Regions from separate parts of the Homo sapiens genome. Here region 2 is linked to region 1. The links come from fine-mapping of genetic effects on gene expression. Tissue or cell type: whole blood. Region 1 holds a variant in brackets; the other region holds the start of a gene. All regions are shown on one strand. Distances are from middle to middle.

Region 1 (8,189 bases):
GGTGACACCTTTGTTCTGTGCAGAGCCTTAGGTAGAGGGGGGACCCTCTGAAGCCTGAACAATGAACCATTTACAGCAATCTGAGGTTCTGAGCCTCAGGATGGTGATGACTCTTGCCTTGTCACTGGCAGAGAAACACTGGCACAGGAAGGAGGAAGCTCTGGCCCTGCCAGAGATGATCACACTGCAAAAGGAAGTCTTGAAGTCCTTTTAGAAGCTTCCAGGCCAGGTGTCATGGCTTATGCCTGTAATCTCAGCACTTTGGGAGGCGGAGGCAGAAGGATTGCTTGAGCCCAGGAGTTCGAGACCAGCCTGGGCAGTATAGTGAGACCTCATCTCTAAAAAAAAAAAAAAAAAGTTAGTTGGGCATGCTGGTACGCCCCTGTGGTCCCAGCTATTTGGGAGGTTGAGGTGGGAGGATCACCTAAGCCTGGGAGGTTGAGGCTGCAGTGAGCCATAATCGTGCCACTATACTCCAGCCTGGGTGACAGAGTGAGATCCTGTCTCAAAAACAAAAAACAAGAAGCCTCCAAAGCATCGTTCCTACCCTTCGCTGCTGCTCAGAGACTCCTCAGCTCCAGCCCAGGACCCTGCTCCCCACAGCCTTAGTGGAAGCCCTGATATTTTAATAGGGCAGGGGTTTCCTGGAAAGTTCTGTGGGTGGCATTTTTCCTTTTTACTAGCTAACATCCTATGCCCTTTGGGCTTATGAGAGTAGTCATCGAAGATTCACTGAGGCCTATGCGGGGACTTCCCCATGCTCTTTCATAAAGGGGACAGGGAGGGGACAGAGGCAGAACGAAGGGCCTCCTTTTTCCTTTACCCCTTAGAGAAGAGCAAAGGGCAGAAGGAAGAAAGGGCATATGGGCTGCATTCCGTGAGTGCTTCTCTGTGGGGTCTCTCCTCAGGGTGACATTCTGCTCCCACTCCTCTTCCCACAGCCCCCCACTCTCCGTCTGGCAGGATAATCTCCAGCCCTTTTCCTGTCCTCCAAAGGCCCCTAGGGAGCTTGGTTAATTCATTTGGCTTCTCCAGGTTGATCTGTAAACCAGTGTTCCAGGCTGCGGTCCTGGAGGGGAAGGAGCATCAGGAGGCCACGAGCTCAGGGAGCTTCAGTGGGTGGGTGGGTGGGAATCATCTCAGCTCCTTGTTAAGAAGGAAGGGGGGTGCGTGAGTTACCTATTGGCGTATAACAAACAAATTACCCTAAAACTTAGTAATTTAAAATAATAAGCTGGGTGTGGTGGCTCACACTGGTAATCCCAACACTTTGGGAGACTGAGGCAGGAGGATTGCTTGAGGCCGGGAGTGTGAGACCAGCCTGGGTGACTTAGTGAGATCACACTTCTACTTTTTTTTTTTTTTTGAGACAGAGTCTCACTCTGTCACCCAGGCTGGAGTGCAGTGGCTTGATCTCGGCTCACTGCAACCTCCATCTCCCGGGCTCAAGCGATTCTCCTGCCTCAGCCTCCCAAGTAGCTGGGACTACAGGTGCATACCACCACACCCTGCTAATTTTTGAATTTTTGTATTTTAATTAATAATTAATAAATTATTTTTGAGACAGAGTTTTGCTTTTGTCGCCCAGGCTGGAGTGCAGTTTGGTGCCATCTCGGCTCACTGCAAGCTCCGCCTCTCGGGTTCAAGCAATTCTCCTGCCTCAGCCTCTGGAGTAGCTGGGACTACAGGCGCCAGCCACCACGCCCGGCTAACTTTCTGTGTTTTTAGTAGAGACGGGGTTTCACTGTGTTAGCTAGGATGGGTCTGGATCTCCTGACCTCGTGATCCGCCTGCCTCGGCCTCCCAAAGTGCTGGGATTACAGGCGTGAACCACCACACCCAGCCTACCATTTTTTTTTCTTTTTGAATTTAAAAATGAGCTGGGCACGGTGGCATGCACCTGTGGTCCTAGTTATTCAGGAGGCTGAGGGAGAAGAATCACTGGAGGCTAGGATTTCCAGGCTGTAGTGAGCCATGATTGTGCTATTTCACTCCAGCTTGGGTGACAGGGTGAGATCCTGTGTCTAAAAAGAATAATAACAATAATAATAAACATTATCTCACACAACGAGGAATCCAGGAGCAGTCTTGCTGAGTAGTTCTGGCACAGGGTTGCTCATGAGGTTGCTGCTGAGGTGAGGGTCAGGTCTGGAGCCATCTGAAGGCTGGGATGGGGCTGGAGATTCTGCCTCCAAGACAGCTCACTCGGGAGGCTGTCGGCCAGAGGCCTTAACTCCTCCCTGTGTGGGTGTCTTTATGGGGCCTCTCACAACACGACACAGCAACTGGCTTCCCCCAGAGGGACAGCGTGGAAAAGACAAAAGCTACCACATCTTTATTTCAAGATTAGATTTGATCTTGAAAGCAACGTGCCATAATTTCTGCCCTATTCTATTGATCACAGAGACCAACCTGGTGCAAGCAGGAGGGGGCAATGCAAGGGTGTGAACTGAGGGAGACAGGAGTCACTGGGGGCCATCTTGCAGCCTGGCTGTCAGAGTGGGGAGCAGTGCCTGAAACAGAGATAGGCCAAGAGACGGGAAGGGACGTCTCTGAGCATCTCCATCCCCAGCCCTCTTCTCTTGTCCACTCTCCAGAAGTTCTGGAAGCCAAGTGAGGTCCAGGGCCTTGGCAAGTCGAGTGTGTGAGGTAGGAGGCCATACTGTGCACATTCAGCCTTGGAGTCGGGTTTGCCAGCGGTTCCCCTACCCCTGACGTGGTCTTCTCAGCTCCATAGTGCAGAGGAGGAGCCTCTGCAGGCCCAGAAATTTCCCTGCCCACCTCCCCTACCAGGTAGAGATGTTAGGGTTCAGGCCTGAGCCCCTGCTGCTATCCCTCCTTCAAAGGAGGAGATCAAGGAGCTTAGGGTCCCCCGCACAGGCCCACCCCAGGGTGGGGTTCTTCCTTTGAAGGGAATTGCTTTGGGGTGGGGTCGGTTCTATCTGCTCCACTCTGTGGCTGACAGTTTCTCCAAGGGGCTGCAGGTGTCAGCTGTCTGAGCCCGGGCTGAGCTCTGAAACGTGCCTACTCAAACTTCCCGTGGGGTAGGGGAGGCCCAGAACCACCCTCTGAGAGTGGCAAAAAGTGGTCCTGGAGCCAGGGGAAATGTGGATGGGGTAGAGATGGCATCGATGCTCCTAGACTTTGCTTCCCAGAGAACAGCCCCAAAGACCCCTCCCCTGCTCCCCATCCTCAAACCCTGCCCCCAGCCCCCTTTGCAGAGGGCGTCAGTGCTGCCAAAGATACTTCTGGTAAGGAGGCCACCGCAGAGTTGCACCTGGGGCTTTCAACTTTCCTGCAACCCTGGCTGCCCTAGGCCTCTCAGATCATCCAGTCTCCAGCACTCTGTCTGTAGCCTCTGACACCGGCTTCTCTCTCTTCCCCATCACTCCTTCCCCTGGCTTGGCCTCCTCCCGTTCTACAGCCTAGAGAGGCAGGATACATGCAGCAAAAATAGCCTCTGGAACTCCCCCTGTTCCATGCTTTCAGACATGTGATGGGGGCAGACAGCTTGACTTCCATTTCTTCTTCTGTAAAGTAAGGATAGTAACAGCAACACCTACCAAAAAGGTCTGGCATGTACAAATGAATGTGAAAGTGCTTGGAAAATGGAAAACCACTCTAGAGATGTGAGGACCATGGCACTGCTGAGCCTCAGAAGCTCCAGGTGAGGCAGTGGGCCTCATACCTCCCTCCACTGCTAAGGGAGAAGACTTCTCTTAGCTGTCATCCTGGCCTTTCTTCTTCTTTTTTTATTTTTTATTTTTTTTTTAGAGGTGGGTTCTCGTTATGTTGCCCAGGCTGGTGCGCAGTGGCTATTTACAGGCCCGATCCCACTGCTGATTAGCATGGGTAGCATGGAAATTGTGACCCATTGTGTGTCCGGCCTGGGCTGGCTCACCCCTCCTCAGGCAATCTGGTGGTTCCCCACTCCCGGGAGGTCACCACGCTGAAGCTGAACTCAGTGCAGACACCTGATCTGCATAGTGCACTACAGCCCAGAACTCCTGGGCTCAAGGCATCCTCTTGCTTCAGCCTCCTGAGTAGCTGAGACTACAGGCACTCGGCACCACGCCCCGCCTGGACCTTCTTTTTTTGGTTTGTTTGTTTTTGTTTTTGTTTTTGTATTTTTAGTAGAGATGGGGTTTCACCGTGTTAGCCGGGATGGTCTGGATCTCCTGACATCACAATCCGCCCGCCTCGGCCTCCCAAAGTGCTGGGATTACAGGCACGAGCCACCATGCCTGGTCCTGGACCTTCTTAATGCAGAGGAGAGGCAGTGCAATGAGGGGGACCACCCAGAAACTGGGGTCCAAGCGGGTGAATTCAAATCCCGGTTCCACCAGCTGTGGTTACTAGCTCTGAGACCTTTGACAACTGAAACTCTTCGGCTAGGCACAGTGTGACTCATGCCTGTAATCCCAGCACTTTGGGAGGCTGAGGTGGGTGGATTGCTTGAACCTAGGAGTTTGAGATCAGCCTGGGAAGCATAGCAAAACCCCATCTCTAGGGGAAAAAAAAATTTAGCTGGGTACAGTGGCACATGCCTGTAGTTCCAGCTACTTGAGAGGCTAAGGCGGGAGGATAGATTGAGCCCTGGAGGTTGAGGCTGCAGTGAGCTGTGACCGTGCCACTGCACTGCAGCCTGGGTGACAGAACGAGACCTTGTCTAAGAAAACAAAAAACTCTTCAAGCCTCAGTTTCCTCATCTGTATGGCCTGGACAATAATACCTATGTCTTATCACTCTCATGAGGATTAAATAAAAGATACAACCACATAAAGCACACAACAATGCCAAATGTTTACTATAAACTCACCCTCTCTCTTCCTTTTTTCTTTTCCTGTTTGGAAACCCCAGAGAGAGAGCCAGGTTCTCAGGACCGTTGACTTCCAGGCCACAGACTCACAGAGCTG[C/G]AAGTTCTCACACCGTCCATCGGGTCTGGAATCTGCAAACCGGTGGGCCCAAAGCTAGAGCCAGCCCTTGGAATGCTCTGTTTGCTCTACCCAGTGTCACGACAAGTTGAAAAAATTTGTTACCAATATTAAAATCAGGAGGTATTACATAAATGTCTGGTTTTCACCTTCTCTAGAAATTTTGGCAGAGCAGGCAACTCTAGGCTCACATGCCAGTATAGCCTCTACGGTCAACTCAGACAGCTATGCAGGGAATGGCTGCCCTTAACTAGCTGAGGCAAGTACTCTCTGGTTTCCCCCAGTCCCTACCCTTCCCTTTTGGTCACCACCAGTGTACCTTTCTCATTTGCACTACCTAGGGGGCTCCTGTAAGCATTTACATTTGTAGCCCTGCTCTCCTGCTCTTGTCCATACTTCTCTATTTATCCATTCAAAAATTATTTGGCCTGGTGCAGTGGCTCACGCCTATAATCCCAGCACTTTGGGAGGCAGAGGCAGGAGAATCACTTGAGGTCAGGAGTTCGAGACCAGCCTGGCCAACATGGTGAAACCCTGTCTGTACTAAAAATACAAAAATTAGCCAGGCTTGGTGGCGCACGCCTGTAATCCCAGATACTCGGGAGTCTGAGGCAGGAGATTCGCTTGAACCTGGGAGGCGGAGGTTGCAGTGAGCCGAGATCACACCACTGCACTCGAGCCTCGGCGACAGAGCAAGACTCTGTTTCCAAAAAAAAAAGAAAAGAAAAAAGAAAAAAAAATATTATTCAATAGCCAGGAGTTGCAGGGAGTTAGAATGAGGAGTCAGTATTTAATGGGTACAGAGTTTCATTTGGGGAAGATGAAAAATTTCTAGATGGTTACACAACCATGTGAGTGTACTCAGTCCCACAGAGCAGTACATTAAAAAATGCCTAAAATGGCCGGGTGTGGTGACTCACACCTGTAATCCCAACACTTTGGGAGGCCAAGGTGAGCAGATCACTTGAGGTCAGGAATTCGAGACCAGCCTGGCCAACATGGTGAAACCCCGTCTTTACTAAAAATACAAAAATTAGCCAGGCGTGGTGGCGGGCACCTGTAGTCCCAGCTACTCGGGAGGCTGAGGCTGGAGAATCGCTTGAACCCAGGAGGTGGAGGTTGCAGTGAACCTAGATTGTGCCACTGCACTCCAGCCTGGGGGACAGAGTAAGACTCCGTCTTGGAAAAAAAAAAAAAAAAAGCTTAAAATGGAAAATCTTATGTTGCGTGTATTTTACCGCAATAAATTTAATATCAATAAAATTTAATATATTAGGAAAATATTAAACAAGCATTAAGGGTCTTCCAGGGCCAAGGCATCTGTGAGGGTGCTGGGAACATAGTGCTAACTAAGACAGACACGGTCACCGCTCTGGCCTGTGAGCTAGACACTAAGCAGCAAATAACTTCATTGCAACTGGAAAATTGCTACGAAGGGAGAAGCACAGGGGACTGGGAGATCTTATCACAAGGAAAACTGATTTCAACTGAGGAACCTGAGTATCCTCTGAGACTCTGGGGAGGAAGTCCTGTGCAGGAGAATGGTAGAGCAACAAAATATAAACAGCCCCAATCTTGGCCCTGGAGGACGGCGTGCTGCTCCCTCTCTTCTGCACCACCCACCTCCACACTTCCTACATGTGAAAAATAACTTCAATCTTGTTGAAGCCTCTATTATTTTGGGTTTTCTTTTGCTTGTAGCAGAACCCAGTGCTTACCGATAGACAATTCTCCCAGTTGAAAGAAGGTTCTTTTGTGATAAGATCTCCCAGCACCTTGTGCTTTTTCCTTTGTAGCGCTTGTCGAATTGTAATGAAGTTGTTCGTTGTTTAGTGTCTATGTCATAAGCTGGAGTGGTGACCATATCTGTCTTCTTCAACATCACATCCCCAGCTACCTAGCAGAGTGCCTTGGGCTGGTACACGCTTAACTACGTACATGAATGAATGGAGCAGGGCTCAAAACATCAATGCCTACCAGAGCCTGCCAGGTAATGTAAATGAGAAAAGCAGACTGGCTGTGAACAATAGGGAGGGTGTTTGCTTTCTAGTCTGAAGGAAGAAGGCCTGAGGAGGATACATTTTCCCCACTTTGAGGAGCAACTCTGAGGTTGCACCTAATACTTTCACTTCTATCTATTAACCAAAATTGAGTCACTTGGACACATCCAGCTGTGAGGGAGGCTGGGAAGTATATTTTAAATCTGGGTAGCTAAGAGCTCAGCTAAAAATTGAGGGTTCTATTACCAAGAAGGAGAAAATAGACTTTGGGGACAGCTAAAGCGATAGCTGAGATCTGAAGAATGAATAAAAATTACCTAGATCAGTGGTTCTCAGAGTGAAGTGTGGCCTGCAGACCCTTGGGAGTCCCTGAGACCCTTTCAGGGGATCTTCAAGGTCAAGCTATTTTCATAAAAAAATACAGGATGTTATTTTCCTTTGTCACTATGTTGACATTGCAATAATGTTGCAAAAACAATCTGGATAAAACTGCTGCCTTAGCATAAATGAAGGCAGTGGTGCCAAACCATATGATAGTCATTGCATTCTTCACTGCCAGGTACTTACAGTAAAAAAAGAAAAAAAATTAATGCCACTTTTACTTAAGAATGCCCTTAATGAGGCCGGGCGCAGTGGCTCGTGCCTGTAATCCCAGCACTTTGGGAGGCCGAAGCGGGCAGATCAGGATCACCTGAGGTCAGGAGTTCAAGACCAGCCTGGCCAACGAGTGAAACCCTGTCTCTACAAAAATACAAAAATTAGCCAGGCATGTTGGCGGGTGCCTGTAATCCCAGCTACTCGGGAGGCTGAGGCAGGAGAATGGCTTGAATCCAGGAGGCGGAGGTTGTAGTAAGCCGAAATCATGCTGCTGCACTTCAGCCTGGATGACAAAGCAAGACTCTGTCTCAAAAAAAAAAAAAAAAAAAAGAGAGATCAAGACCATCCTGGGCAACATGGTGAAACCCCATCTCTACTAAAGATACAAAAATTAGCTGGGCATTGTGGCGCATGCCTGTAGCCCCAGCTACTTGGGAGGCTGAGGCAGGAGAATTGCTTGAACCCGGGAGGCAGAGGTTGCAGTGAGCCAAGATCACGCCACTGCACTCTAGCCTGGGCAACAGAGTGAGACTCCCTCTCAAAAAAAAAAAAAAAAAAAAATATATATATATATATATATAGAATGCCTTTAATGAAGCAGTAAATACTAATTTTATTAAATCTCAACCCTTGAGTACGGTGTGTCATGAAATGAGAA
Region 2 (8,157 bases), 32 kb before region 1:
GGAAGAAAAAACTTACGTTAAGAGCCAGGAGTTGGGGTTTAATCCCCTATGTCAGTGAGAACATTGTTCTCTTTCCATGTCAACTTGTACTACCAAAGGCAGCTCCTGCGGGAGCCTGAACTGAGCCTGCCTTGCAGCCGAGGACCGTCCGCAGGTGCACCCCACCCTCCTTACTCCTGATACTTACAAGAGAGGCTGAGGGCCCGGGGCCCTCACCAGTCATAGCGGCGGGACTGTCGGGAAGGGGAGTCCTCAGGTCCCTGGATGGCCAGGCGGGGAGGCCCCTCCGCCCTTCGTCCCCCAGCCCCTGAGGACTCAAGCCGCCGAAACTCCAGGGGACGCTGCTGCCGGAATCGGGAGGTCTCCCGCCGCCACTCGTCATCAAACGCTGCGGCCTCACCTGGAAAGGACAGAGCGGACATGAGGCCTGTGTGCGGCCTGGCTCCTGGAGGCCGATGTGCGAGCGAGCCACAGCTTTTCGGGCCAAAGCGGCGAAGGCTGAGTGTGCGTGCAGGGATGGGTGGGGTGGCAATTCCCTTAGCTCTTTTGGTTTCTGCACGGTCCCAGGAAGCCACCGGTAGGCGTAAGGTGGCCTACTGGAGGAAGAAATCAGAATGGGATTATTCTTCAGTTCAGGTTCACAGTCCTATGTGCACACTAGGTACTTAATAATTGCGGATTTGAAAAAGATAAAGAGGGGAGAAAGAAACGGATCAAGGTGGAGAAGGGTGTAACACTATCAATACGGAACTTCAGGGACAAAGTAGGCCCCTCACAAAGACACCGCCAGCACCTGACTCCGCCCGAGCGGAGGAGGCTCCAAGTGCGGTAAGAATATGGGACTGACAGTTGGGTGCAGTGGCTCATGCCTGTAATCCCGGCACTTTGGGAGGCCAACGGTCGGTGGGTGGATCACAAGGTCAGGAGTTCGAGAACGGCCTGCCCAACATGGTGAAACCCTGTCTCTACTAAAAATACAGAAATTAGCTGGGCGTGGTGGCACATGCCTGTAGTTCCAGCTACACGGGAGGCTGAGGCAGGAGAATTGCTTAAACCCGGGAGGCGGAGGTTGCAGTGAGCTGAGATCGCGCCACTGCACTCCAGCCTGGGCACCTGGGCAACAAGAGCGAGACTCCATCTCAAAAAAAAAAAAAAAGGAATATGGGGCTGACCCAGAGCTTTGCCCCAGAAGTGTCTATGTGTTAGGGATGTCCACGGGAACCGGGTTAGGGGCTGCCAGCCAGGAAGCGGGAGGGAAGGCTCACTCTCATCCAGGTTGATATAGTCCTGCCGCTCCTCCTGGTCCCCCGTGCGATGGTTTCGGGAGCGCTGGAGGATGTGAGCCCTGTCCCGGATGTGATGCCCAATGGACATCTGCTCCAGTCCACTGTCTGAATCCCGAACAGTCCTCCGTGTCTCCCGGATCTGGGATGAGGCAGAACGTGGCACACTCAGCCGCCCCTTCCAAAGCCCTGCCTATACCATCTCAGGATAAACACACCACACACAACCCAATCCGGAAAAAAGCAGCCAGGGTTTCTGGCGGTGCCGCTCAATCCTACCTTCTCTGGGACAGGAGGGCTCCCCAACTCACCCCGCCTGGTGCCGAGCGCATCTCTGATGTCTCTTGGTAGACCTTGGGGGCACCATCACCCGTATTGGAGTAGGAGATGACAGTGGAAGATGAGAAGGTCTGGCAATTGCCTCCAGCTGTCATGTGTTCCTGAGGACAGGGTAGGTAGGGGAGGGCTGAATGGGGAGGCATCACCCCTGGTGAAGGGATTTCACCCTTCAGCTGCCTGTTCTAGCCTGTATCTTTCTCACAAAATGCAAGAACTGAAAAAACATCAGGCCTCATCATTACCCTCCCAAATTCCTCTGAGTCCAACCACGAGCAAGAAGGACCTGAAGAGACAGGGCCTTAATTGTATGCTACGTAAGAGAGCTGCTGCCGGCTGCTTCAGGCAGGCATGACAGCAGGTACAGGGTCCCAAGGCTCTCTGGTTCAATTACTTTATCCAGTACTTTACCCTTCACTAGCATACTGTTTCCCTCTTGCCTTAGAGGATGCAAGGTGTTGTCAGCCATCACTGAGAGCAAGGCCGGGGAAGGGTATGGGGCAAGTCTCACCATGTTTCCAATCATGTCATTCATCATCCCAAACATGTCCATGAAACCACCCGACTGGAGGAAAGAGATGGAAAACAGAGTCAGGAAAGCAAAGTCAGTGTTCAGAGTTGATCCTGTTTAGGAACCCACAACCCACATGGCTGCACATTTCCTTTCTCTTCTTCCTTCACATCTAGCAAGTTCTCTTTCTCATTCTGTTAAAATAACCAGAATACTCATATTTCTCCTCCTGTGAACTGCTGACCCCTTCCTCAGTCTCTGTGACTGCTGTGATCCAATTTTCCTTCTCCTGCTTGCTATATTCCCCCCATCTTTAGGAAGCAAGCCAAAGTAATGGATTCTAAACTCTAAAGAGGTAAGGCATGAAATTGTTAAAACCTACCAAAAAATCATCTCTAGTTGGCCCTTTAACTGCACTTCCCTCCTCAAAAGAACAAATTTTGCTAGACAATTACATCTTCCTAATGCGTATGAACTTCTAGGAGTACAACAGTTAATAACATCTTTTCTTTTTTTTTTTTTTGAGATGGAGTCTGGCTCTGTTGCCCAGGCTGGAGGGCAGTGGCGCAGTCTCGGCTCACTGCAATCTCCACCTCCCGGATTCAAGAGTAGCTGGGACTACAGGTGTGTGCCACCATGCCTGGCTTTTTTGGTATTTTTAGTAGAGACGGGGTTTCACCATGTTGGCCAGTCTGGTCTCGAACTTCTGACTGCAAGTGATCACCCATCTCGGCCTCCCAACAAGAGTTTAACACCTTTAACCCACAGGGCTCCTAGTACCCAACAGGCTCAGAGCTTTGTGAATGCCATAAAAAGAGAAGATTCTGGGGTTACTCATGAAACTATTCCTAAGAGGCACATTTGGGAATAATATCTAAGGGTAGAGAGTGTGTCTGAGATGGAAGGACACAGGGAGATAAAGACTCACCATTCCCAGCATCCCAAAGGGGGAGACAGCTCCAGCCTACAGGAACACATGAGGAACAGAAATTAGAGACCACATCCTATCTCTTTACAATCCCAAACCAGGCCCATGGCCTCAATTTTTTTCCATCCTCTCAAAAGGGAGTCACAAAGCCCTTTTTCCTGACCCTTTCCCCAACTCCTAGAGCATTTCACTTGCTCAGTTGGCTGTAGTGCAAGAAAATTAAGTGCTTTCCTAACTAACCTCCAACCTTTCTTTGGGTCTCAGGTGTGTCTCAGCATCATTACCTGCTGCATCCGGCGGCTGGCAGGCCTGGTCCCTGGCATGTTGCCATCTGTGATGCTGAGGAAGGGGCTATATCCAAAGCCACCTGACAACATACGGCTCATATGCTGACGGTGAATAGCAAAGGGATCCCTGTGGAGTGAGCACATAGTATGGATGGCAGAAGCGCCAAACTGTCAATCCCTCCACCACCCTGCAAAAAAATACGCACAGAGCAACAGTGGCACCGATGCCTACTTCCTGCTAGGTAGGAGCTAGGTATCCAGCCAGTTCCAACCATTCCTAGCAATGGGAACCCCGATGTCTGCCTGAACTGCTCAGAGACCTGGAGTGGGAGAGCTTGAGGGGGAGGGAATACTCACATCAGGAACATGGGATCCTCAGGCTCCACGTCCCTCATGAAGCGGAACATCCTGATCTCAGCTCCAGGGGGCTCCACACTGGAAAGATATGGAAGCTCAGATACTTGGAGGTGGCCAGGGTTTTGCACACCCACTCAGTGTGGGGACTCTCAGAGCACTGTCCTTTCCAAATCCTGTAACTGACCCCCTAAACTCCAGGGAGACCCTACTCCAGGTGTTCCACACAACCCTCTAGGGAGGGAAGGGCTCTTCAAACCTCTTTCTCAATTAGGGCCATGGAAAATTTTTCCAACCCTCTCGGTTTTTCCCTCCCCCACTCAGAGCCATCCTCTTCCCAAAGCTCTGGCCGGTAGCATACTCTCCCCTCCTCCCGCCGACGACACCGTTCTAGATGAGAATGCCAAGTGCAGGTCCTCCGCCCCATTAATGACCCCAGTCACCCCGCCCCCTCCTTACACTCAGGCCTCCCCCAGGCGGGCCTCACTAAGCCCCCCGCGCCTGTCTGCGACTCCTCTAGCTCCCGCCTCCCCGCCAGGCGAGCAGGAGAGGTAGGCCTGAGCCTCTCCTCTCCCCACCCCGCATCCCGGGCTCCCAGACCCTGCAGCCCCGTGGGCCCGCTCCCGTCCGGGGCTGCCAGCTCTGCCCGAGCCTCACCAGTGCCCGATTCGGGCTCAGCGGCCCATCCGGCCGGTTTCGCTTCCCGGTACGCTGCAGGGTCAGGGTCGCGGCCCGGAACGTGGGGATTGGTCCGGGCTTGAGCTCCTCGGCCTTCCACGCCGCCTCCTCCCACAGCTGCCACCTCCGTACGGCCCCCTCGGCCAACGGAGCCCGAACCTCGGCCAGGCCCGGGCGGAAGTGACGTCACGATAGACCCGCCCACCCGGGGCCGGGCCGTGGGAGCCCCGCCCCCTGGCGCGGGTGGTGAGATGGCTGGGGCCGAGTCCCAGGGGCGCCGGGGCCATGGGCCAAGCTCAGGGGAGCAGAGCCTGAGGCCGAGAGGGGTCCCCTGGGCACGAAGAAGGGGAGCTCATTAGTAACCTCGATTTGGGTTCTGTGGACTGGAAGAGGCTCCCATAAGGCAGGGGAGGAGAAGGAGAAGAGGAATCCATTCTTCGGGAGGGACCGGGTTGGAGGTTGAACCTGGGGGCGCAGTGCAGCACGTTCTCTCTCCCTCCTCAAGGGGAAACTGGAGGACGAGGGGCAGATGCCCCTTGGGGAGAGGCGGGCGCTCTGTGGGCGACGAGGCGGGGCGGATCCCTGGGGGGAGCTTTAAGCCGACTCTACTGGAGAAGCAGTCTACCCTAGAGGGAGGATGGGCAGTTTTCCTGCGGGGGAGGCGCTTGGGCCTGTCCCCGCTTGAGGAGGAGCGTTCCTGGCAGGGCGGAGTCCCCGGAGTGACGCAGAGGAGGTGAAACTCTCCAGCCCAGATCTAGTTCGGGCTTCAGAAAGTCGGATGGGGCAGAGGATCCAGGTTGGGGGGTTGGCCGCCAGATGGCGCTCCTCGGCCAGGCTGGAACCGGAGGCCCTTGAGAACTCGCGTTGGAGAGGGACCTGGACCCTCCCCCGTTACCCATCTGTGAAGGGTTGGACTGGGGAAAGGCTACAGTTCTGAATCTATTAGTTTAATGCCACTCTCCCCTTCCTTTTACTCTAATTCTTGTGTCCTCAAGAGCTCCCAGTCCTGCACTGACCTTTCTTGGTTGCTTTCTTAGGTCAAAGGTCTAAAGTTTGGGGGAACAAAGGAGTGGAGAGCTCAGTTAACCTGGATCACCCAGGGGAGGAGCTAAAACGGGGCCCAGAAGACCTGCCTCCAAGGCCAGAGACTGATACTTTGACATACTAAATGTCTTGCATAAAATCTGGCTCTGCTGGAGAGAAGGGCCTTCCCCTTTGGGGTCAGGGCATTTGGACTGTCTAGGATGGACTTTAACCAGACTCATCCAAACTCCAGCTTTCCCTGGTTCTTTACTCTGGCTTTTAGCCATATTAGTGCTGTGTGGAGTCTGACCCAATGAGAAAGACTTGTTCCCAGTAATTCCCTGGGGGAGAAAGAGGGGGTCCCTGGTGACTCAGGAAAAGGTGCTAGGAACAGGGCTTCTCACGTTTCTTTGGACTTGATCATTATTAAAGAGGAAAAAACAATAATAGAGACAGGGAGCAGAGATAGATAATTAAGATATAAGCTGACAGACTGGCAAGTCAAAGGAAAACAGACAGAATACAAGTAAATTTGTTTTTCATTGCTATTTCTGGGGGAAGAGACTTAGTAAAATCTTCTGTCTTCCAGATCTCTGCACTTCCCACCATGCAACTTCCCCTTATCCTCTTGCCCCAAATGAAAGCAGTTTGACATGTGATCAAGAGTTGTCCCAGTAAAGGTTCTGTGGCTGAAACTTAACTAAAGAGATCCTATCCATTTTTTTTCTTTTGTCCTCTCCTCCTTCTAAAGCAAGTTCTTTATTGTCCAGCCAATCAACAAATGTTTAAGGCCTGGCGCAGTGGCTCACGCCTGTAATCCCAACACTTTGGGAGGCTGAGGCGGGCACATCACAAGATCAGGAGTTCGAGACCAGCCTGACCAACAAAGTGAAATCCAGTCTCTACTAAAAATACAAAAATTAGCTGGGCGTGGTGGCACATGTCTGTAATCCCAGCTACTCAGGAAGCTGAGGCAGGAGAATCGCTTGAACCCAGGAGATGGAGATTGCAGTGAGCCAAGATTGTGCCACTGCACTCCAGCCTGGGCGACAGTGAGACTCCGTCTCAAAACAACAACTACAACAAAAACGAAAATTAGCCGGGCATGGTAGCAAGCACCTGTAATCCCACAAGTAGGCTGAGGCAGGAGAATCACTTGAGCCTGGGAAGTGGAGGTTGCAGTGAGCCGAGATCACGCCATTGCACTCCAGCCTGGGGGATGGAGCGAGACTCTGTTCCAAAAAAAATAAAAATAAAAATAAAAAGCAAATGTTTAATGAGGCCTGGAACTGTCCTAGGTACATTGTATTAAGCATACATACAAAATATAAGACACGGTCTCTGCCAATTGAAGGCATACAGTCTTGTAGCCACCTTTTTCTTTTTTAGTTACCTGTTATCCGTTTTTTTGTTTTTTTTTTAATTAAATTGTAGAGATGGGGAGTTTCATCATGTTGCCCAGGCTGGTCTCAAACTCCTGAGCTCAAGTGATTCGCCCAAACTTGGCCTCCCAAAGTGCTGGGATTACAGACATGAACCACTGTGCTCAGCCACCTGCTATCCTTTACGTACCGCCTTTAGGTGCCTAGAGTCCTTTCTCTTCTTCCTTCCAAAACTTAAGAATCTGCTGGCCAGGCGCGGTAGCTCACGCCTGTAATCCCAGCACTTTGGGAGGCCGAGGTGGTTGGATCACTTGTGGTCAGGAGTTCGAGACTAGCCTGGCCAACCTGGCCAACATGGCAAAACCCTGTCTCTACTAAAAATACAAAAAAATTAGCCAGGCATAGTGGCACGTGCCTGTACTCCCAGCTACTTGGGAGGCTGAGGCATGAGAATCGCTTGAACCCAGCAGCAGAGGTTGCAATGAGCCGAGATCTTGCCACTGCACTCCAGCCTGGGCGACAGAGCAAGGCTCCGTCTCAATAAAAAAAAGAAAAAAAAAAAAGGAAATTGTTGGCCAGGCACAGTGACTCACACCTGTAATTCCAACACTTTGGGAAGCCAAGGCAGGAGGCTCGTTTGAGCCCTGGAGTTGGAGACCAGCCTGAGCAACATAGTGAGACGTTGTCTCTTCAGTAAAAAAAATTAGCCAGGTGTGGTGGTGTGTGCCTGTAGTCCCAGCTACTTGGGAGGCTGCGGTGGGAGGATTGCTTGAGCCATAATCACACCACTGCACTCCAGCCTGGGAGACAGAGCAAGGCCCTGTCTCTAAAAAAGAAAAAAAGAAAAAAAAAAAACCTCTTGAACAGGTGAGGATGAAAGAGCAAATGCAAGAGCCCATTTTCAGAGTTCTTGGAGACATACCATATAGGCAGTTGTCTACTCCAGGAATTAAAGGGATGTAATTTTGCAAGTAACCAGAGTTTGTGTCTGTCTTCCTTCTCCGGGTCTCTCCCTCTCCTTCATTTCCTTTCCTCTCTTCTCCTTCACTCTCTTCCTCTCTCCCTTCCTCCATCCCTCTTGTCTTTTCCCTCTCTCCCTCCCTCTTTTTTTTTTTTTTTTTTTTGAGACGGAGTCTCACTCTGTCGCCCAGGCTGGAGTGCAGTGGCACGATCTCGGCTCACTGCAAGCTCCGCCTCCCGGGTTCACGCCATTCTCCTACCTCAGCCTCCCGAGTAGCTGGGACTACAGGTGCCCGCACACCTGGCTAATTTTTTTATATTTTTAGTAGAGACAGGGTTTCACCGTGTTAGCCAGGATGGTCTTGATCTCCTGACCTCGTGATCTGCCCGCCTCAGCCTCCCAAAGTGCTGGGAT

Evidence for each region. PIP is the estimated chance that this variant, and not a neighbour inherited with it, causes the effect.
Region 2: it holds the start of MLF2, and the variant in region 1 is fine-mapped to the expression of MLF2 in whole blood (TOPMed, PIP above 0.99).

What each region holds. Positions count from the first base shown.
Region 1 is chr12:6,780,082-6,788,270 of GRCh38, forward strand. It overlaps the pseudogene RN7SL380P. Among named protein-coding and RNA genes, the nearest start is that of CD4, 5.4 kb to the right of the region's middle. RefSeq lists a silencer at 6,702-6,996. The variant C/G (reference allele first, on the strand shown) is at 4,917.
Region 2 is chr12:6,748,583-6,756,739 of GRCh38, forward strand. It overlaps MLF2 (myeloid leukemia factor 2), which reads right to left and starts at 4,559. Exons shown (of 9, transcript NM_001382226.1): 1 at 4,357-4,559; 2 at 3,703-3,780; 3 at 3,343-3,472; 4 at 3,059-3,094; 5 at 2,131-2,184; 6 at 1,595-1,723; 7 at 1,266-1,425; 8 at 188-400. The coding sequence starts at 3,752. The coding sequence ends at 213. RefSeq lists a silencer at 4,456-4,695 and enhancers at 4,866-4,915, 4,946-5,115.